Regions from separate parts of the Homo sapiens genome. Here region 2 is linked to region 1. Evidence: fine-mapped expression QTL. Tissue or cell type: whole blood. Region 1 holds a variant in brackets; the other region holds the start of a gene. All regions are shown on one strand. Distances are between the middles of the regions.

Region 1 (10,739 bases):
TGGAGAGATAGGGTTCCTGGCATCAGGATCTTGAATCTGGATTTTCCCAAAATATGTTTCAACAAAGCTTTCTCTTGTGATGTATGCCTCAAATATGTTTGGGAAACCTGGCATACTCTGTTCCCCATCAAGGAGACCCACATCGCACATTAGTATATTAAAGACTCTGAGAAGTTCTGTAAAATTAAAACCTGTTTAATTTTCTTTTCTTTTCTTTTTTTTTTTTTTGAGACAGAGTCTCACTGTCATCCAGCCTGGAGTACAATGGCACAATCTTGGCTTACTGCAACCTCTGTCTCCTGGGTTCAAACGATTCTCTAGCCTTAGCCTCCCAAGTAGCTGGGACTAGAGGCACATGCCACCATGCCCAGCTAATTTTTGTATTTTTAGTAGAGACATGTTTCACCATGTTGGCCAGGCTGGTGTTTAATTTTCTTTAGCCTTCATTTCCCATTTTTTCACATTAACTTCCCTTAATATCCCATGGATCTAATGACGCCATTAGCTGGGAATGCTGCATTGATGGTTAGAAAAGATGTGGATAATGCACTGGTTTCTGCCCAGTCCTTTACATAATTGGGACCCACTGGTAGGTGTGTCTGTGAGTCCCCAGCCCTCTCGCTGCCCCACCTCCTAGCTTCTATTCCTCACAAGCCAGCTCTTGGGTTCCCTCACCTCTTGGTCACACTCATGGAAGAGTTCCAGGTTGTCTGTGTCCTCCATAAGGCAGTTCCCTAGGTGTGTCTGATTGGGGCTGATTTGGGAAGGACTGTTCTCCTTTTCTTTGGATGCTGTCCAGGGATTTGTGTTCCCTTTTTTAAGTAGCACTATCCACGTCCTTACATAACGAGCACAAAGGTGAAGGTATTTCCAGCCATGGACAAAAGAAATAAGATGGCAGCAAACAGTTGCCTTGTTAGTGAACTTAAAAGAGACCTTTCTTTTAGGTCATCTTTGCTTTGAACCAGACCCTCCTGCAGCAGGAAAGCCTGCGAGCAGGCAGTCTTCAGATCCCCTACACGACGGAGGATCTCATCAAACACTATAACTGCGGGGACCTCAGCTCCGTCATCCTCAGCCATGACAGCTCCCAGGTGAGCACCCTTTCCCCCTGCCAAGCTCAGCACACATTTAATTATAGGAATAAAAACATTACCTGGCAACATGTACATCCTGTGTACAAAGGATTGAGGTCATGAGGGCTCTAGAAATAAAGTGGGCAGATTTAGATGTCATTGAATGAGGCACTACAGCGAATGAAAGCTTTACAAACCTTGTAAGAACAGAGAGGGGCATTGATGAGGGTTAATTCCAGTATTCCAGCCAAAGGATGAAGCTTCAAAGGATTTAACAGTAGGCCACATGAACCAGCCTTGAGGAAGGGAAGGGTTCTGAGTCTGATGGCCTCCTGGCTGACTTAGGTCATACTTTTGCAAAATGATGGGGCAGAACTTTGACTGCAGCTTCAGTGGCCTCTAGGAACATGTGAACATGATATAGCTGTGTATTCACAGAATGCTTACAGGCTTAGGGCATCAGAGCTGGGAAGGCTGCTAGCATTTGCAGACGTGGATCATTGCATCCTGTGGTATTGCAGGATGAGTGTGGCTGAGCTGGTGGATTGAGTGTTTGCCCAGCTCAGGCCTTACCTGTGGGCCATTGAGTGGAAGGAAGTAGCTGCTCAGCCTCAGAAGATCATGGTCTCCTTCCAGGAGGGAAGTGGTACGGATCTTTGTTATGCTTTTATCAACAGGCTTCCCATGGGACAAGCCATGGTGCCTTCGCCTCCTCTCTAGGACTACATGCAAATAGCAAACACCAGCTAAACTTCTGAGGTAGGGGAGTGTGTTGTTTCCCCCACCCAGGACTGGTGTCCACATGCATGAAGACACTGGAGAGGGGAGACAGGAGCTAGTGGGTGTGGGTGATGCTGTACAGGTCTATGTTAAATCTGGGGACCCAACCATAAGGAGACATGTGTGAACATGAGAGCTGAAGGAGGAATAGCAGCAATGGGGAGAAGGACAGTACAGGCTGAGTGCAGCATCAGCCCAGAAAGGTGACATTTCATTAATGACAGAAGCCTCAAAAGATGTAAGGAGCATCCCCAAAAATCTAGAGGAAAAAAAAGTCAAATTGAGACAAAGTGAAGCAGGAGGAAAGGGAGAACAAGAAACACATTAAAGAAGGAAAAATAGAGTTGGTGGTGGTGATAAATCTTACCTGCACTCTTGCTGAGGGTAGGGAAGGGGGGAGAAAAGTCAAGATCAATTGGGAAATTGACATTTGAAGCAGCAGAAAAAAGTTAATGTGGGCGGAGGATTTGGTCATTACGTGGGCAAATGGTGAGGCTGATGGAGCAGATAATACAGATGTCTTATGCATTTTTCTCCTGTGGCTTTCCCATATCTGTTCTGCCCACAGGGCCCCTACAGGAGGTCAGGGAATGTGCTGTCACTGTGAGTGAGGGCCAGGCTGGCCAGCAGGGAGTGGTGCAGGCTTTGGGTGATGTTTGGAATTTAGAAGGTGGAGCAGGATGTCAGAGGGAGGTCACCCTGTGTATCTGACGCTGCCTCTGTAGAGAGGCTGGTAGAGAGGGGGGCTCTGCTGAAGAGAAGAGATTTTGGGAAATGGGCAGGGGATCTTACATAAATGACATGATTAAAAAAAAAGATGACAGAGTAGAAGATGAAGGCTGTCGATTTGAAAATGAAAGAATATCATTTCGAGGCCGTCGCAAAAGGAGATCTGTTATCCATAAGATGGAAGTTAATGCTGTCACAGAGTCTGAGGACTTTGGAAAGCTTTTTGAGAGGCTACTGGAAGCAGCAGCAGCAGGCAGGGTAGATACTGACCAAGATAATGGGTAACATTGTTAAGTCCCTGGGTGGAGGAGAGAGCATGCACCCAGGGGGAGGAGTGGGAGGCTGAGGTTTGGGAAGCCAGACAGCTGAGGGGGTGGGGAGAAAACACAGAGTGCCAGCCTTACCTGTAGCTCCTGGGCTGCAAGAACCACGCTGATTGTCACAATTTTGATGCACTTTCATCCTGTTATTAGCCAAAATACTGAAACTGGCTAACATGTATACCAGAATCAGTGAAATATTTGCCAGGAGGGCAAAGAACATTGGGGAAAGCAAGAGAGAGAAATAGGAAGTGGAGAAATAATGAAAATGTAAAGTAGAGGATTTATAAAACATTTAAGTGTTTATACAAATTTCATGTTTTCGGTAATAGAATCTAAAATATGTAACTATATAAGACTATTTTTATAAGAAAAGCATGTATGAATCACACAAGTTAAAACTATGGATGTACTGTGCAAAGACAGTGTCCTTTTTTTTTTTTTATAAACACACGGCATCAGACAGAGCCATTTAACTAAAACAGAAGTGCAGTTGTAAATAGTGTAAGAGTTCATTCAATGCACTTCACTTAATATTTTTTTCACTTTGGTTACAGGGAATGTGATAGAGTGGGAAACATAGCAGACAGGAAACTCCAAGAATGGTGTCACTCTTCTCTTGACAACGTCTTGACCATCTAGGTTGGGGGATTTGATGCTCCAATGAAGTAACTTTGTTAATAACTCTGTTGCCCCTTATTTTTTTTTCTCTTTATTTTGGTGGAGGTTCCCAATTTTATTAATGCCACGCTACCACCTCAGGAGCGCATCACTGCTCAGGAGATTGACAGCTACTTACGCCGGGAGCTGATCTACAAGCGGAATGAGAGAATAGGGAAGCGGGTGAAGGCCCTTTTGGAGGAGTTCCCTGACAAAGGCTTCTTCTTTGCCTTTGGAGCTGGTGAGTAGTGGGTCACCTCTGATTAGCCTCTGAAATCTGAGGCTTCTCCCAAGAAGGGAATGTTGAGGTGAGCCCCTGCTTAGGGCCTGTGTTAGTCATGAAGCGAGATGAAGGGAGTGACACCTTCCTTGACTTATTTCAGTTGCAGAGTGGCTCCAGCTGGGGATGGAGCATCCAGCATGGTTGAAATGTTGCTGGATGAGCTGGTGCATGTGACATCACCCATAGCTCTCTCCACACATAAGCCAGCTGGGAAAACATTTTTGTCCTCTGAATTTCATACTTAATCCCAACTTCTTTCTGGTACTTTTCACTTTGTAAACTTTCACTACAAATATGTTTGTCTTTACTCTTCTACCTGACAATGAGCCTCCCAAGTCCAAGGCCTGGGGCTGATACATCAGCTGTTATTGACTGTTAGCAGCACACATGGAGACAGAATAGGACAATTATTTTCTTTTGTGGGCTTCTTGAAATAAATTCTCTCCCCCGGAGTGACTCTGACACAGAATTCTTTGCAGCCTCAGGAAATGAGGATAGAAATGCCAGAGGCTGGACAGTATGCAGAAAGATCATTTGCTGGGCTGGGCTTTGTTTCATATTTTTCTGCTAACTTCATAAACTTAAACAAGTCATGTC[A/G]CTCAGTTTCTTTACCAGTAAGATAGGGGGTTGGAGAGAAGCAATTCTGAAATGGTGGAGTGAGGGCCTCCAAAAACCTGTTCTTCCATAGCAGCAATAAGAACACTGGAAAAAATGGTCAAAATCAACTTTTCCACAGCTCTGGAAATTAATTAAAGGCTTGCAACAATCCTAGAAGTGTTTATTTAAGAAAACTGGATGAATTTTGATAGAAGCAGTGGGCTTTGTGGCATTTTAACTTGTTCTGTTTTTATCTCCCTTTTCCCAGCTTCACAGTAGCCTTGAAAATCAGGAGCCTTGAACTACAGTAGCTGTGAAAACTGTTTGCCTAATGGTTACTGGAGGGGACAGAATGGGTTCAAAGTTCCTCCAAAGCTCCATCCTTAAAGAATCATCACTATTTGACATGTCCAATAGTTCCCTGAAATTTCCATTCCCAAGCTTGTCTTCATTTGACCTGACTCAGAGCTTGCTCTGTGTGAATAGCCCTATTCTTAGGGTGTGTGTTGAAAACAATCAGTAGCAGCTGTTTAACATCATAGTTGCTGGAAATAGCAATATTAATTGAAGCTTACAAGGGGCTGCCCAAAAAACTTAAAAGCAAAATCCCATAGGGGGTATAGAAAAGCTCTAAAATATTCCTAGAGAGTCACATGCATGAGAAGAGCTGTGCACATGCCCAGGAAAGACCTGAGAAGGTCCTAATCTCTCACCTCTGGCTGATCTTGAGGCTCTGTGTAAGCAGAGTGTGAAAGCTAAGGCAAAGTCATAAATTGCCTGTTGAAGCATCAAATACATGCCCCCAAACTCACACAGCCCCTCTGCAAAGGTTGGGAAACTTGCAAGGAATTTAAGGAAATCTCTGTTCAGTCATTAGCCAGCCACTAAACTAACTGAGCAGATCCTTCAGTGATCACACACAACAAAGAATACAGACTTTACAGACTTAGTCCTAGAAAATCACTACACAAACAGCAACAACAATGCACCTGGGACTAAGGGAGAGGAGATGAGTTCCAGAGTTGGTATATTATTTAAATGTCTAGTTTTCAATAAAAACAATTATAAGACACAGAGCAAAACTAGAAAGTATGGCCCATACCCAGGGAAAAACAAGCAACCAATAGAAGCTGTCCTTGAGGAAGTTAATATCTTGGACTTACTAGAAAATGACTTTAACACTAGTTATTATAAATATGTTCAAAAAACTAAAAGAGGCCAGGTGCGGAGGCTCACGCCTATAATCCCAGCACTTTGGGAGGCTGAAGCAGGTGGGTCACCTGAGGTCAGGAGTTTGAGACCAGCCTGACCAATATGGCAAAACCCTATCTCTACTAATAATACAAAAATTAGCCAGGCGTTGTGGCGCACACCTGTAATCCCAGCTACTTGGGAGGCTGAAGCAGGAGAACTGCTTGAAACTGGGAGGAAGAGGTTGCAGTAAGCTGAGATCACACCACTGTACTCCAGCCTGGGCCACAAGAGTGAAACTCCATCTCCAAAAAAAAAAAAAAAAAAAAAAACCCTAAAATTAACCATATCTAAAGAATTAAAGGAAAGTTTGAGAACAATATCTCACCAATACAGAATATCAATAAAAATATAAAAATTATTTTAAAAGAACCAAATAGGAATTCTGGAATTTAAAGTGTAGGAACTGAAATGAAAAATTCACTACGGGGGCTGAACAGTAGATTTGAACTGGCAGAAGAAGAATCAACATACATGAAGATAGGTTGATTGAGATGATTCAGTATGAGAAAGAGAAAGGAAAAGGAATGAAGAAAAATGAATAGATCTTCAGATACCTGTGAGACACCCTCAAGTGTGCCAATGTATACCTAACGGGAGTCCCAGAAGACAGGAGAGAAAAAAAGAAAGAAATAAAAAGAATATTTGAATTTAAAATTGCTTGAAAATGTCTCAAATTTGATGAAAAATATTACTCTGCACATTCAACCCATGAACTATAAGTTGTATAAAATCAAAAAGTTTCACACCAAGGCGTGTCATAGCCAAACTGTCAAAAGCCAAAGACACAGAATCTTGAAAGCAGTGAGAGCAAAGCAGACAAGGGATCCCCAATAGGATTAACAGCAGATTTCTCATCAGAAGCCATGCAAGCCAGAAGGCTATGGGAGACATACTCAAAATGCTGAAATAAAAGACTGTCAACAAACATTTCCACATCCAGCAAAAATCAAAAACGAAGGAGAAATCTGTTGCATGTGAGCTGAATAGAATTTGTATTCTGCTGTTGTTGGATGAAGTATTCTTTAAATGTCAATTAGATCAATTTGATTGATGATGCTCTTCAGTTCAACTATATTCCCTATCTGATAATTCCAGAATCTCTATCATGTCTGAGTCTGGGTCTGATGCTTTCATTGTTTCTTCAGATTGTGATTTTTCTTGCCTCCCAGTGTGACTTGTAATTTTTAATTGAAAGCTGGATATGATGTATTTGGCAATGGGAAGTGAGGGAAATATGTTTTTAGTGTGAGGGTTTATGTTAATCTTTCTCAGAGTTGGGCTGTTTAATGTTTTGCTGTGGTCTGAATGTTCCTTAAAACTTGTGTGTTGAAACTTAATTATTATTGTCATGGTATTAAGAGGTGGGGCCTTTGGGAAGTGATTAAGACATGAAGGCTCCACATTCATGAGTGGATTCATGCTTTTTAAAAGGACTGGAGGAAAGTAGTGTAGGCTATTTTTTTGCCCTTGTGCCTTCCACCATGTGAAGATATAGCATTAGCCCCTCCTGCCATGTAAAGACTCAGGAAGAAGGCCCTCAGCTGGACATGGTGGTGCATGCCTGTAATCCCAGCACCTTGGGAGGCCATGGCAGGAGGATCACTTGAGCTCAGGAGTTTGAGACCAGCCTGGTCAACACAGTGAGACCTCATCTCTACAAAAATTAAATAAAAATTTAGCTAGGCATAGTGATGTGTGCCTGTAGTCCCAGCTACTTGGGAAGCTGAGGTGGGAGGATCACTTGAGCCCTGGAGGTCGAGGCTGAAGTGAGCTGTGAACATGCCACTGCACTCCAGCCTGTGTGACAGAGTAAGACTCTCTGTATTAAAAAAAAAAAAGGCTCTCACTGGGCACTGAATGCCTATGCCTAGATTTTGGACTTCCCAGCCTCTAGAACTGTGAGAAATAAATTTCTATTGCTTATAAATGACCCAGTCTGTGGTATTTTGTAACAGCAACACAGACTAAGGCATGTTTGCTGTAACTCTAGGTCCCAGAGGCTTCAGTTTCCTCTAGTGACCTCTAGTTTTTCCTCTAGTATTTTTTGTCTTGTGCTTTCTTAAGAACCTTCTTAAATAGAGTCTGAGTCTTGCTGCACTTTCACATATAATCCACTGTTATTTTACTGGAGTCCTATTGTTGTGGTGCTAAAGTGAAGATACCATTTCATACTCACTAGGCTATAATAAAAAAGATGGAGAGTAAAAAGTTTTGGTGAAGACATGGAGAAATTGGCACCCTCATACATTGCTACTGGGAATTTAAAATGGTGTAGCCATTTTGGAAAACTGTTTAGCAGTTTTTAAAAATTAAACATGGGGCTACCATTTGATTCAGCATTTCAACTTCCAGATATATGCCTAGGAGAATTGAAAACATATGTCCACACGAAAATTTGTACACAGATGTTCATGGCAGCATTATTTATAATAGCCAAAAAGTGGAACCAATCCAACTATCCATCAACTGACATGGATAAATAAAAGGTGATATATACACACAAATGGAATACTATTTGGCCATAAAAAGGAAAGAGGTACTGATATATGGTACTACATGGATGAACTTTGAAAACATTATGCTAAGTGAAAACAGCCAGTCACAAAATCATATGATTATATTTATATGAAATGTCCAGAACAGGCAAATCTATAGAGACAGAAAGTATTCATAGATTAGTGGTTGCCAGGGGCTGGGGTCAAAACGATGAAAATGTTTTAAAATTAGATAGTGGTCATGATTGCATGATTTTCTGAATATACAGAAAAAATCACCGACTGGCATACGTTAAAAGGATGAATTTTATGTTATGTGAATTATATTCAAATATTAATAAAACTGTTATAGAAATATAAGGGGTTTGGCTCCCACATTATGCTCATTGAAAAGTTCTGCCACAAACAAACTGCAGTTTGTGCCCTCAGCAATGCCCGTGAGTATGTGGTAGTTTTCTTCTTCTGTAAGTCCTGTGTTTCATGTCTGGATTGGGCACCGTGTGCACATTTGTACTGTCTCAACAAATGGCTTCTTGGAACAAAGCTGTTAGCCTGGGCCTCACTCTTGAGGCACCGTAACAGTGGTGCAGACCCCAGATGAGAAAGTTAGGAAACAGAGCCAGTGGTGGTGTCCCAATGCACCACCCCGGGTCTGTGTGGATGGAAGGTGCCCAGGTGCTGGAGTGTGGGCTTCTGCTTTCCACCCCTGCCAGACTTAGGTGAGCTCCCAAAAACTTCCCGTATGTCCCGTGGCAGGGGTAATGGGGCGCTGGGGAGAGGGGAAAGGTCGACTGGGTTCTGGGCTGGTGGGAGGCTGGGGCACAGCTTGGTCTGAGCAGTTCGGTGGGTGGGCCCTCGTGGTGGGGGTTCTGCCAGGCAGGTGGAACAGGCAACACCAACACCTGAGCTTGCCCAGTACTCAGGGCTTGATTTGTCATACTGATGCAGGGCTAGATTGGGGCTGACAGCCCCTGGGCACTCCTGATGCCCGAAGTGCCCAGGGGCTGTGAGCCCCCATCTAGCACTGGCTCCTTCTAAGGCAAAGTTATATTCCTGTAGCTGCTTTCTCTCTGTGCCTTCTGAAGGCTAAGTTGAACAGAGGAAACTACAGAAATTGCTCCGAAACACATTACCGTGTGCTTTTAAAACTTAAAAGCTGTGTGGTTAGCAAACTTTTAATTGCAAAATGAGGATAACTGAAAATGGAAAGTACTGGAGTTTTAAAATCAAGCAGCGACTTTTGTCATGGGGATCTGGATATAAAATGCGAAGATTAGAAATGGAAATCACCTTTGCAGTAGAAGAAAAATTGAAGTCAGAAGTGCTAAGTGGAAACTATAATCACTTGTTCTAAATTGCCAGTTCCTTATTTGCAAATGAATAACCTAGGATCAGTGGTGAAAGACATGACTTTTTTTCTTATTTAGGTGTCGATCTTAAATCAGCTCATGCTGATTTTTGGCTCCTGTTTGCCAGGGTTACTTCTCCAGTGGCCTCCTCTCCTACCCCACATTTCTAGGTTACAGCTATCGCCCCTGCACTGGCAGCTGTCTAGGCTGGTCTAGGCTGTGGGGAGGAGAGGGGAGGATGGGAGGGAATGGTTTTGCCAAACTTCCCTTTCTGAGCCCCTGCTGACCCATGAACACCCCCTTTGATGCATGAGGGTGAAAATGAAAGCAGGAACCATGGGCCTTCTGCTTCCTTCTCGGGGCCTATTTGCTGTACTGCCGCAGGCTCCCAGGGTTCCCTGGTTGTGACTCCTGAGACTACAGTGGGTTTGTCCTATGCAGAAACCTCCAAGAATGACAGATCTTAGATTAGGTTGCCTTTACTTTTTCTAGAAAGTGGTGATTGGGAAGTAGCCATTCCTTCCGTCCCACCAGCCTCCCTGTTTTTTCAGAGAGCACAATTGCATTCCATCCTGTAGTTGGGAATTCCCCCCCCTCCTTTTTTTTTTAATTGAGACAGAGTCTTGCTCTGTCACCCAGGCTGGAATGCAGTGGCATGATCTCGGCTCACTGCAACCTCTGCCTCCCGGGTTCAAGTGATTCTCCTGCCTCAGCCTCTCAAGTAGCTGGGATTACAGGTGCCTGCCACCATGCCCGGCTAATTTTTGTATTTTTAGTAGAGATGGGGTTTAACCATGTTGGCCAGGTGGGTCTTGAACTCCTGACTTCAGGTGATCCACCCGCCTCGGCCTCCCAAAGTGCTGGGATTACAGGTGTGAGCCACTGTGCTCAGCTTGAATTCTTGTATTTTCTCCAGACCAGTGTCCTCACCTTTCAGGATCCTGCTCACATATCACCTCTTCTGGGAGGTCTTACCAGGTTGCAGTTTGATGTCCAGGCTATCCCCTTAGCTTTGTGACTTCAGGTAACTTGCTGCATTGTTCTGATCTTCAGTGTCATTGTCTCTGAAATGCTACTGATGCTGCCCTGCCTGCCTTGCAGGACTGTTGGCAGGCCTGATTCCAGAAGCTCTCTAGAACTGTACTGTGCTGGACAGATAGGCAGGGGGCTTGGCAGGGTAATTTCTTGGTTCTAGG
Region 2 (10,739 bases), 44 kb before region 1:
CCAGCATTGCACCCGGCTTCTAGGAGCAAGTGAGCATTCACCTAGCATAGTGTCACCATGTGACACATATGCAGGGCGGGGAGGGGCAGGAGACCAGTGGAAGCACAAGGATGGCATGGGGGCTGGCCAACGTCACTCTAAGTAGACATACAATGATCAATGCCCTTCAGCCATAGACCACCAGGGACACACTTGAAATTGCATTAGTTGGATTTATTGCTCTTTGCGATGAGGGAGAATTCTCTTGATGTGTGTCTTTTGTGTGTCCAAATTTTCTCATATTTTGGGGAATTGTAGGGCATATCAGGAAGAAGGTGTTAGGAGGGCTTGTTATAGGATTTGGACTTGTCAGGTGATTTGGGGGAGAGTTCAAGGAAGTGGGGCTTTGCTCTGGGTTGGGTGCTATCAAGTATTAGTCAGCTTGGGATGCCATAAAAAATACCCCAGACTGGGTGGCTTAAACACAGACATTTCTTTTCTTTTTTTGAGACAGAGCCTTGCTCTGTTGCCCAGGCTGGAGTGCAGTGGTGCAATCTCGGCTCACTATAACCTCTGCCTGCTGGGTTCAAGTGATTCTCCTGCCTCAGCCTCCTGAGTAGCTGAGATTACAGGTGCATGCCACCACACCTGGCTAATTTTTGTATTTTTAGTAGAGACGGGGTTTCACCATTTTGGCCAGGCTGGTCTCCAACTCCTGACCTCAGGTGATCTGCCTGCCTTGGGCTCCTAAAGTGCTGGGATTACAGGTGTGAGCCACCGTGCCCAGCCCAGAAGTTTATTTTCTTACAGTTCTGGATGCTGCAAGTCTGAGATCAAAGTGTTGGCAGGTCTCTTCTCCGAGGCCTCGCTCCTTGGCTTGCAGATGACTGCCTTCTTTCTGTGTTACTCACATGGTTGCCCCTCTGTGTATGCAGTCCGTGCTGTTCTCTTCTTTTTTTTTTGAGACAGGGCCTCACTCTGCTGCACAGGCTGAAGTACAGTGGAGACCATGGTTCACTCCAGTCTTGATCTCCCAGGCACAAGGGATCCTCCAGCCTCAGCCTCCTGAGTAGCTGGGACCTCATTCATGCACTACCATGCCAGGCTAATTTTTTTTTTTTTTTTTTTTGTAGAGACAGTGTCTCCCTTTGTTGCCCAAGCTGATCTCGAACTCCTGGGCTCAAGCCATCTTTCTGCCTTGGCCTCCCAGAGTGCTATGATTACAGGTATGAGCCACCATACTTGGCACAAATTTCCTCTTTTTATAAGGACACCAGTCAGATTGGATTAGGGCCCATCCTTACAGCCTAATTTTAACTTAATCATCGATTTAAAGACTTTATCTTCAAATACAGTCACATTCTGAAGCACTAGGGGTTAGGGGATTAATGTATGAATTTTGGGGGATCTTAATTTATCCCCAAATAGAATCTTAACGTATCTCATCTATGAGGTGGGAGAAATGAATGGAGGTGAAAACTGGCCTTGGTAAAGGAGCAGCCATCACTCCTTAGTCAGAAGAGGCGGATGACTGGACACCCTTTCTTGTGACTTGGCCAATGTTCATGTTTTGTCTGTGTTGAGATGTGATTATGGAGGGGTTTTGCTTTCATCTTCATTCATCACAGAGTGGCCTTGTCTGATGTTGATGCTCTGTGAAGTTGTTTATGTTCAACAGGAGAACACCATGGCTTAGCTGTGAGTGCCAGGCCAGCTTGTAGCAACACCAAGGCCTGACTGATAAAACCAGACCAGTTCCCAGCTGTCCAGGGATGTTTTCTCTTTTTCACAATCTGGTACAAGCAGTGTGCTGCAAAGCAAATGCAGCTTTGGCATACTTGCCACTCTTTCCTACTTAGAAATTCTTGTGCCAACACTGGGTGGGCGAGGGAGTGTGGCAACATTCAGCCCCTTTCCAAGAATGCACGGAGCCTGCACACCTGGCAGTGGAGGGAGTAGGTGTTTCCACACCTCCATCAACTTAGGTCTTCAACTGCTCACCTTGAGGACGGACACAGCCTGCTGGCCGAGCACCATGCTGGAACTCCTGGGAATGTGCTTAGCATCCCACTTCCCCTGGTGTATTAGTTATCTATTGCTGCTGCAACAAATTACCACAAACCTGGTGGCTTAAAACAGCACACATTTATTTTCCCAGTTGCTTTGGATCAGGAGTGTAGACAGAGCTTAATTGAGTCCTCTGCTTAGGGTCTCACAAGGCTACAGTCAGGGTGTTGTTGGCTAGGACTGGATTTTCATTGGAGGCTCAACTGGAGAGGGATCTGCTCCTGAGCTCTCTTAGGTTGTTGGCAGAATTCATGTCTTCATGAATTCTGTAGGTCTCATGGCAACTTGCTTAGCAATGGAGAGAGAGATTTTCACTGCTTCTGAACCTTCCCCTAGTCCTTTCTCTTTCCCCTTTCATGTATGGTTGATATTCTTGGCAACTCTCCCATATTAGTCCATTTTGTGCTGCTATAGAAGAATAGCACAGACTGGGTCATTTATAAGTAACAGAATGCATTTCCTTACAGTTCTGGAGGCTGGGAAAGATAGCAATGGAGAGAGAGACTTTAGCAAGACTAGCAGTACATGTTTATGTAGTCATGTACAAGTAATCACAGCACTGCCCATGACCTTTGCCGTATTTCATTGTTAGAAGCAAGTCTCAGGTTCTGGTTACAATAAAGGACAGGGTATGAAACATAAGTGTGAATATCAGGAGGCAGAATCAAGGGGAACTGCCACCACACCTCTGATGTCCCGATCACCTCTGGAAATCTGTGGATGACTGCAGGTCAGCCAAGCCAGGTAGAAAAAGGCAGGGTGAAGGCACAGAGTGTTGCTGAAGCCATAGCAAATCCTCTGCATACTCTGAAAACTTTATTTTTGAGGGTAAATCTGATTTTGGGGAAAGAGCAAAAAGGTATCAGCAGTATAATTTTCTCAGGTACTGCTATGAAGGGGACAAGCCTCACAGGTTTGTGTAAATTCAGAAAGTCATTACTAGGGGCACAAAAGAAGCACTTAAGAGTAGATGGACCTAAGCGGATGCTATACTTTGAAGGTGTCCTCCAAAAGCATATGTTGGAAACTTAATCCCTAATGCAACAGTGTTGGGAGCTGGGACATCATGGGAGGGCTTTACCCTCATGACCTCATGAATGGCTTGAGGATGACTTTAGCTCTCAATCTCGATTTTTCTCTCTTTCTCACTCTCTTGTGCTCTCACCTTCCACAGTGGGATGATGCAGTAAGGAGGCCCTTGCCAGATGCTAGGCACCTTGATCTCAGATTTTCCAGCCTCCAGAACTGTAAGGAAATACATTTCTGTTCTTTATAAATGACCCAGTCTGTGGTATTCTTCTATAGCAGCACAAAATGGACTAATATGGGAGGGTTGCCAAGGATATCAACCATACATGAAAGGGGAAAGAGAAAGGACCAGGGAAGGTTCAGAAGCAATTCAGGGCTCTGGCAATGGGCAGCCAGAGGTATGATCCAGTAACAAAGCTGAAGTTAAGGAGCTAAACTTGATACAGAAACTCGGCAGATAAGCAGAGAGGAGGACATGGGTACATTTAACATCTCCTTCCTAACCAGGAAGGGAAAGGCAGAAAGGCCTGCAACCCAGATGTCTGTATAAGGCAAGTGAGGACCAGGCCATGTCAGCCTGTCACCAGGTCTGGGTCAGCACTGTGGGATGATAGTGAACTTAGGAATGTCTGTGGAAACATGTAAGTAGAGTAGATGTGATTCTATAGAATATTCGGACACTGAGTGTCTTACAGAATAAATCCTACTTGATGATGGGTCTGGCTAAGAGAAAAAACAAAACGAAACAAAGCAACAACAGCAACAAAAAAAACACTTCATTTAAAAACTGTCAGAATCAAACAAAATTATCTAGGTACTTTGGATATGGATATGATATTTCATACTCAGTATCTGACCATATGCTGAGCCATAAAACAAGTCCCAATAAATTCAAAATAATCAAAATCATACAGAGTATGTTTTCTGTTTACAACAGAATTGGATTATAAATCTGTTGATATTGCAAAAACCACAATTACTTTTGCACCAACCTAATATTTAGGACAATTCCATAGTTTGGAAATCAATCAACCTACTTCTAAATAATCCACGGGCAAAGAAGAAAATCACCAGGGAAAGTAGATAATGAAAGATAATGAAATACAGTTTTTCAAAATTTGGGTGATGTAGCTAAAGCAGTGCTTATAGGGAAATTTATAACTTTAAATGCTTATATTACAAAAGCAAGAAGACTTAAAGTCAATGACTTAAGGTACCACCTTAAGAATCCAGAAAAAAAGCAAAGTAAACCCAAAAGTAAACAAACAGAAGGAAATAACAAAGATAAGAGCAGAAACCAACGAAATAAAAGAGAGACAAACAACAGGAGAAAATAAACAAATTCAGCCATGTTTTGTGTGGCCAGAGAGAAGCCCAGCTCAGAGAGAAGCTGGGCGGGCTTCTCTGTGGCCACACGGATTGATTCATTTGGAGTGGGAGAGATAACATGAAATAATAGGTAATTACATCCTTTTGAGTTTTTTGTTTTGTTTTGTTTTGTTTTATTTTAAATAAGAGACAGGGTCTCACTTTGTGGCCCAGGCTGGAGTGCAGTGGTTCGATCTTAGCTCAGGGCAACTTACGTTCTTGATGCTTTTTGCTTTTCCCCCTCACAACCGAAAGAGAAAGTTTTTGCCAGCAGGTGGCAGCGCTGGTGCCTGAAAACGCCAAAAAGCATCGTCCTGGGTTGGCCCGGAGACTAACGATTGCCGCCGGGCTGACACGGGGCAGTCATCTGAAGACAGGAGACAGTCAATTCCAGAAAGCAAATCCCCACTCAAACTTAGAAAAAAGCGATTTTACAAAAACATCTGAACTCTAAATGTTGGTGGAGTTAAATCTCGAAAGACTTGGCTCTTCAAAGCCAGGGGTTCTTTACGGGAAAGTTGGAAATGGGCTTCAGAAAACCTCTCCCCGCATTGTATGCAAATCTGCCCCCCCCCTTTTCTTTTTCCCTGGGAGATCGTCCAGTTATCAGATTCTCAAAATGGACAGCGACTTAAAGCAATTAAAGACCACTGCGACAAATGCTCCTGCGAACACCACTCCGAAGTTAATGGCGCAGACGTCTGGACTTTAAAAGGTGGTGGTAAAGTGCGCTCAGGCATGGGTAGGAGGTGCGGCAGGCGGGGCACAGCTACTTGCTTTCATAATTTTTTTTTCTTCCTGATGGACCAATGCTGTGAAAAATCCTCAGTGGGGTTTTGGAGCCGAAAGGGAGCGACTGCAGTTTGCAGGCTTGCTATGTGTGCCAATCAAGGTGTTTCTCATAAATTTCCTCTTTTAATCCTTGCGGCAATCCTCTGAGTTCGGTGTTAACATCCTTAATATTATTCCTAAAAATCCATTAAGAGGGCTCTTAATGGAGTGCCAGCTTTTGTGGTCCTGGATTTTCAGTGGATGCACACACTGACCATTCCCCTCTCTCTTTTACATTCAAAACTTCCGTGAGATTTCCTTTGTTTAAATGAACTTTCCTTTATAGATAGCCTTTCATTTGTTTATTTTGTCTGCCTCTTTCAATCAAGAGGCACCCTCCCCTCACAATCGGCAGCATAAGCACAGACGTAAACGCAGGAACCAATGCGATTTTAGGTTGAATTTAGGACAGCGCTGGAACTTCACTTTACCCCTCTTGCGGTCACACGAGGTGGGCGGCGGCCCCGGCAGGGTTTGGGCGGGAGAAACGCGGTTCGGGACTCCGCTGCCGCCTAGGCGCGGGGCTGACCTGCGGGGGTGGGGTGGGGGGAGGGAGGTCGAGGCCCGGCCCCACGTGGCCGCTGCTGCCGGGCTCACCCCAGCCCCGCCCGGAGGCGCCCCGCGGCCCCGGCTAGCCAGGGCGGGCGGCCACCTCTGCCCTACTCCTTCCCTCCGCGTTCCGGGCCTCGGAGCCGCCTTGAGGAGGATGAGTCCCTGGAGCTGGTTCCTGCTGCAGACCCTCTGCCTCCTGCCCACGGGCGCAGCTTCGCGGCGCGGGGCGCCCGGCACCGCCAACTGCGAGCTCAAGCCCCAAGTAAGGCGCGCGTCGGGTGCTGGAGAGCCGGCCTCTCTGCACCTCCTTGGGATGGTTTCCCTCCGAACCCCGCGAAGCAGCGCTTTCGGACCCCGAGCCGACTTCCGCGGCTGGGCTTTCACCTAGCACCGCGGCGCTCCTTGCTCGCTCTCCTCTCCGTGCCCTCGGGTTCCCCTTTCCCGCGGGGGCGCAGCCCGCAGGCTCCAAGCGACTCAGTGCCCTGGCCTTTGCCCTCCGCCAGCCCAAGGGCGTCCGAGAGAGCCTCTGGGGTCTCGCCAGCCATTTTCGCGAGCTTTCGGGGGACGGATCCGCCAGGGAGTACCGGACCAGGAACTTGGGCACATTTATTTGAAGTTTCTTCTTCCCTCTCTTCCTTAAGAGTTTAATTTCACCTGCTCTTATCAAAATATTAACAGCGCCCTGAAGCTGCTTGGCTTAACCTTCATATGTTCAGTGCCTGAGTTAGAAGGGACTTTAGGGAGTTGAAGCCATTTCCCTTGTTTTTACCGATCTGGGAAACTGACACTCAGCGGGGGACCTGTGTGCTCCAGGTCACAGAGTGCGTTCGCGGAGTGACCACTGTCCGAGCCTTGCGTGTCCAGCCGGGCGCTTTAGATGTTCGCATCAACGTTTTGTGGGTGAGGGAAACCCAGGCAAGGGAGGCTCAGTGACCTGCCCGAGTCAACACAGCTCTATAGCGGACAGGTCTTGCGTCTCCGAGGCTGGACCTCTTTCGAGATGAATATTTCCTTCTCTGATCAGTTTTCCTACACTCAGAATTTTCTGTGGTTCTCGAGTCCCTCTCTTCTGAGTGCGGCATAGGTTGAATTTCGCGCATTTGTTCCGGTGGGTTTGATATCTGTGCGTCCCTGGCTCTGGAGAGGGCCATGCCAGGCTTATCCTTCTGGTGCGCCCGCGACGCGGGGGTGGGGGGGGTTGGGGGTGGGTTGAGGGAGTGGGGGCTGGAATTTAGAGGCCCACCTTTGATGACACCTGCGCAGCTCCCCGGTCTGCCTCCACCCCTGGCCATTCGCAATTTTATTCCTCATCCCAACTGCAGCAAAGCAGAGGACGGCCAAATAGAGCCGATCCTGGAGCTCCGGGCTGGGAAGACGCACGGTGTTCGCCTCTGTAAGGCGTCGCGGGGCTGCGGACGGCCCTCTACCAAGGCAGGAGGCGCGGCAGCTGGAGAGGGGAGTCTGCACCAGGCATGGTTTCAAACTCTGTTGCGGTGTGGCCGCTTCATGCTTGTTAGACAAGGCAGGAGTCCATCTCCTCACAAGAAAGCACATTGCCTTTCACTTCTGCAAAACCTATTACCGACTGGTAATTATGACGAGTGAGTCTGGATAAGATCTCTCTCCTTTAGAATCTGTCTTTATGAGTCCTTTATTCCATCGTCCTACCTTTTGGTCTCAGGACTCCTTTACGTTACAAAAAATTATCAAAGAAGCCCGGCATGGTAGCTCACTCCTGTAATCCCAGCACTTTGGGAGGCCAAGGCGGTGGATCACTTGAGCCCAGGAGTTGCAGACCAGCCTGGCCAACATGGCGAGACCCTTGTCTCTACAAAAAAATAAAAAAAATTACCAGCGTGGGGACATGTGCCTGCAGTCCCAGCTACTCCAGAGACTGAGGTGGAAGGAAACCTTGAGCCTGGGAGTGGAGGCCAGTGAGGTGTGATTGTGCCACTGCACTCCAGCTTGGGTGAAAGAGCGAGACCCTATATCCAAAAAAAAAAAAAAAAAAGTATTGAAAACCTCAAAGACTTTTACTTTATGTGAATTAATGGAGATAGTAGTAAAACACAACATAGCACACATTCCATTAGCCATCAGAGCAGTGACCTCATCACACACATGTAGCCTCCAGAAAATTCTACAGTACCTTGTGAGAAAATGAGGGTGAAAGGAAAATATCTTAGTTTTATAAAAACAGTTTTGACCTTATAGACTCCCTGAAAGGCTCTTGGGGACACCCACAGGTCCCTGGACCATACTTTGAGAATTGCTGTTCTATTCTGTGGGCAAACTCTGTCTTACCCCCTGCGGAATTGGGAAGGCCAATCAGCGGCACACATGCTGTATGTCTGACCCACATGCTGTAAGGGCATTGTGGTTGGGTTCCTCAGTGGGTTGGGGTCTTGAGATTCTAGAGTGGAAGTCCTGGGATCCAGCCTCCAATCCAGTGCAGCAGCCCCTATAGGATTCTGCAGGACTGTAGCCTTGAGAGCTGGTTTGGTTTTCATGGTTGGTTAATCATTAGAGAGGTCTTCTGAGCCCAAATTGGCCCCTAGACACTGCAGGGTTTACCCTGAGCACCACGCAGGTTGAGTCTCTTTCTTGTCAAACAGAACTCTTAGTGTTCTTTCCTATTCCTGCCTGCTGCCTTTTTTTTTTTTTTGAGACAGAGTCTTGCTCTATCTGTCACCCAGGCTAGAGTGCAGTGATGCTACATTGGCTCACTGCAACCTCTGCCTCCAGGGTTCAAGTGATTCTCCTGCCTCAGCCTCCTGAGCAGCTGGGATTACAGGCGCCCACCACCAAGCCCGGCTAATTTTTGTATTTTTAGTAGAGATGGGGTTCCACTATCTTGAGCAGGCTGGTCTCGAACTCCTGACCTCATGATCCACCCGCCTCAGCCTCCCAAAGTGCTGGGATTATAGGCGTGAGCCACCGTGTCCAGCCTGATGCCTTTTATACTTGCTCTTTCTTCCCCCTGGGAAATTCTCCCCTCATTTATCCACAGGCTTGCTCCCTTACCTCCATCTGGCTTTGGCTCAAGCGTCTCTCAATGAGTTTCTTCCTGATTACTCTCGTAAAGGTGACATCAACTGCTGCCACCACTACCATCTGCCTTCCCTGCTTTATTTTTATTTATAGCACTTAATCACCATCTGATAAAAATTTTTGTTTATTGCTGCCCCTTCCCCTATGTCATCTTCATAAGGGTAGGGATTTTTGTCTGTTTTGTTTGCTTCTGCATCCCCAGTATCCAGAAGAGTGCCTTGCCATAGCAGATGCTCAAAAAATATTTGTTGAATGAAAAGGATAATGTAAAGCCAGCTTCATTGTGGCTGGTCTGCTGAAGAGTAATCTTGGAAAAGTGCAGTTATTGCAGGTCCAGGGATGCTAGGATGGGAGGAGCTGAGGGTGTGCTGGGTGTTACGGAGTTAGCTTGCAATATGCAGTTGTCATTGTGCCTTGTTCTTTTTCACTGGATGGACTACACAGGTGTCTGTTAAAATCTCAGTTTGATTCAGAAGCTTGTAGCTTCTGTGTCTCAGTCACCCATGGCCATGTTTTCTCTCTCTCTTTTTTCTTTTTTGAGACACAGTCCTGCTCTGTCACCCAGGATGGAGGGCAGTGTCGTGATCATAGCTCATTGTAACCTTCAACTCCAGGCCTCAAATGGTCCTCCTGCCTCAGCTTCCCAAAGTCTTGGGATTACAGGCATGAGCCACCATGCCCGGTTGTCTTTTCCTTCTGGGAACAGTTGCAACAAGTTAGAAGGGACATGTTAATCGTGGTTCAGTTTTTTTTTCTTTTAAACCACCCTAATGTTAAAATCTATGGCTTCTTCTAATTGCCATATATTTTAACAGTGAAATGGGGTAGTGAAGGATTTTTTTTTTTTGTAGAGATAAATAGCCCTACCCTGAGGATATCAGTATGAGAGAGGCAGAGGCAGTTGCACCAGTACAGTAAGTGCAAGGGTCCGGGGGCTCGCCAGTGGGCAAAGTAAGGTAAAGAAGAGTCCTGAAGACTCTTCTTTCAGCCTGTGCCCTGCTGAAGACATGTCTGGTAGGGCAGGATCAGTGTTCCACAGGAATGGTTATTGGTGCACACAGTGGGAATCCGGGTGCCCTTTGGTCAGAACAGATCTGTAGGTATTGAAGAAATTGTACAAGATAAGATTCATTTCTTTAAAAAACTCTTTTTGAGCTCCTATGTAGTAGTATATGGCAAGTATTTCAGTATTTGGGGATATGAAGGTGAATAAGATACAGCCCTTGGCATAAAAAAGCAGAAAAGCCCCTGAGCTGTGTTAACTTGAAAAGAGAAAATGGGAAAGGTGGCACCTGAGGATGTAACAAGGTCAGTGTGGTTTATCTGGGCAATCATCTGGGATCGGGAAGATGAGCTGGACAGAGCCTTTCTAGATTTGGAATCAGGTGGTGCTCCTCAGCAACAATACAACTAGCAGGGTATTAACTGAAAAAAGATATGACTCTGAATCAGAGGTAAAGTCTATTGCATGTTAAGGCTGCATAAATATGGCGTTTAAAAGCTTGGACTCAGGAGTCAGCCTACCTGTCCACCACTTAGCATGGGGCATATTTTTGCTCCCACCACACCACTAAAACTGTTCTTGTCTGAGTCCCTAGTGACTTCAGTGTTGCTCAATCCAGAGGTCAGTTCTCAAATTCTTGATTTATTTGGCCTACCATCCACATTTAACCCGCTTGCTTACTTTCTGCTCCTTGAAGTACTTTCTTCAATCGGCCTCCTACTCTTCTGATTTTCCCAGCAACCTTGCTGGCCACTTCTCATTCTCCCTTGCTAGCTGCTCTTCTTTCCCCAGACTTCTTAGGGTGAGAGGGCCCTGAGTCTATTCCTAGAACTTTTCTCCTGTGGACATCCTGTTGGAG

What was found. PIP is the estimated chance that this variant, and not a neighbour inherited with it, causes the effect.
Region 2: TRABD2A starts here. The variant in region 1 is fine-mapped to the expression of TRABD2A in whole blood (TOPMed, PIP 0.98).

What each region holds. Positions count from the first base shown.
Region 1 is chr2:84,832,216-84,842,954 of GRCh38, reverse strand. TRABD2A (TraB domain containing 2A) reads left to right here. Exons shown (of 7, transcript NM_001277053.2): 3 at 948-1,094; 4 at 3,632-3,806. Among named protein-coding and RNA genes, the nearest start is that of TRABD2A, 43 kb to the left of the region's middle. The variant A/G (reference allele first, on the strand shown) is at 4,446.
Region 2 is chr2:84,876,281-84,887,019 of GRCh38, reverse strand. It overlaps TRABD2A (TraB domain containing 2A), which reads left to right and starts at 5,936. Exons shown (of 7, transcript NM_001277053.2): 1 at 5,936-6,088. The coding sequence starts at 5,981. RefSeq lists a silencer at 5,832-5,961 and enhancers at 5,691-6,191, 6,192-6,694.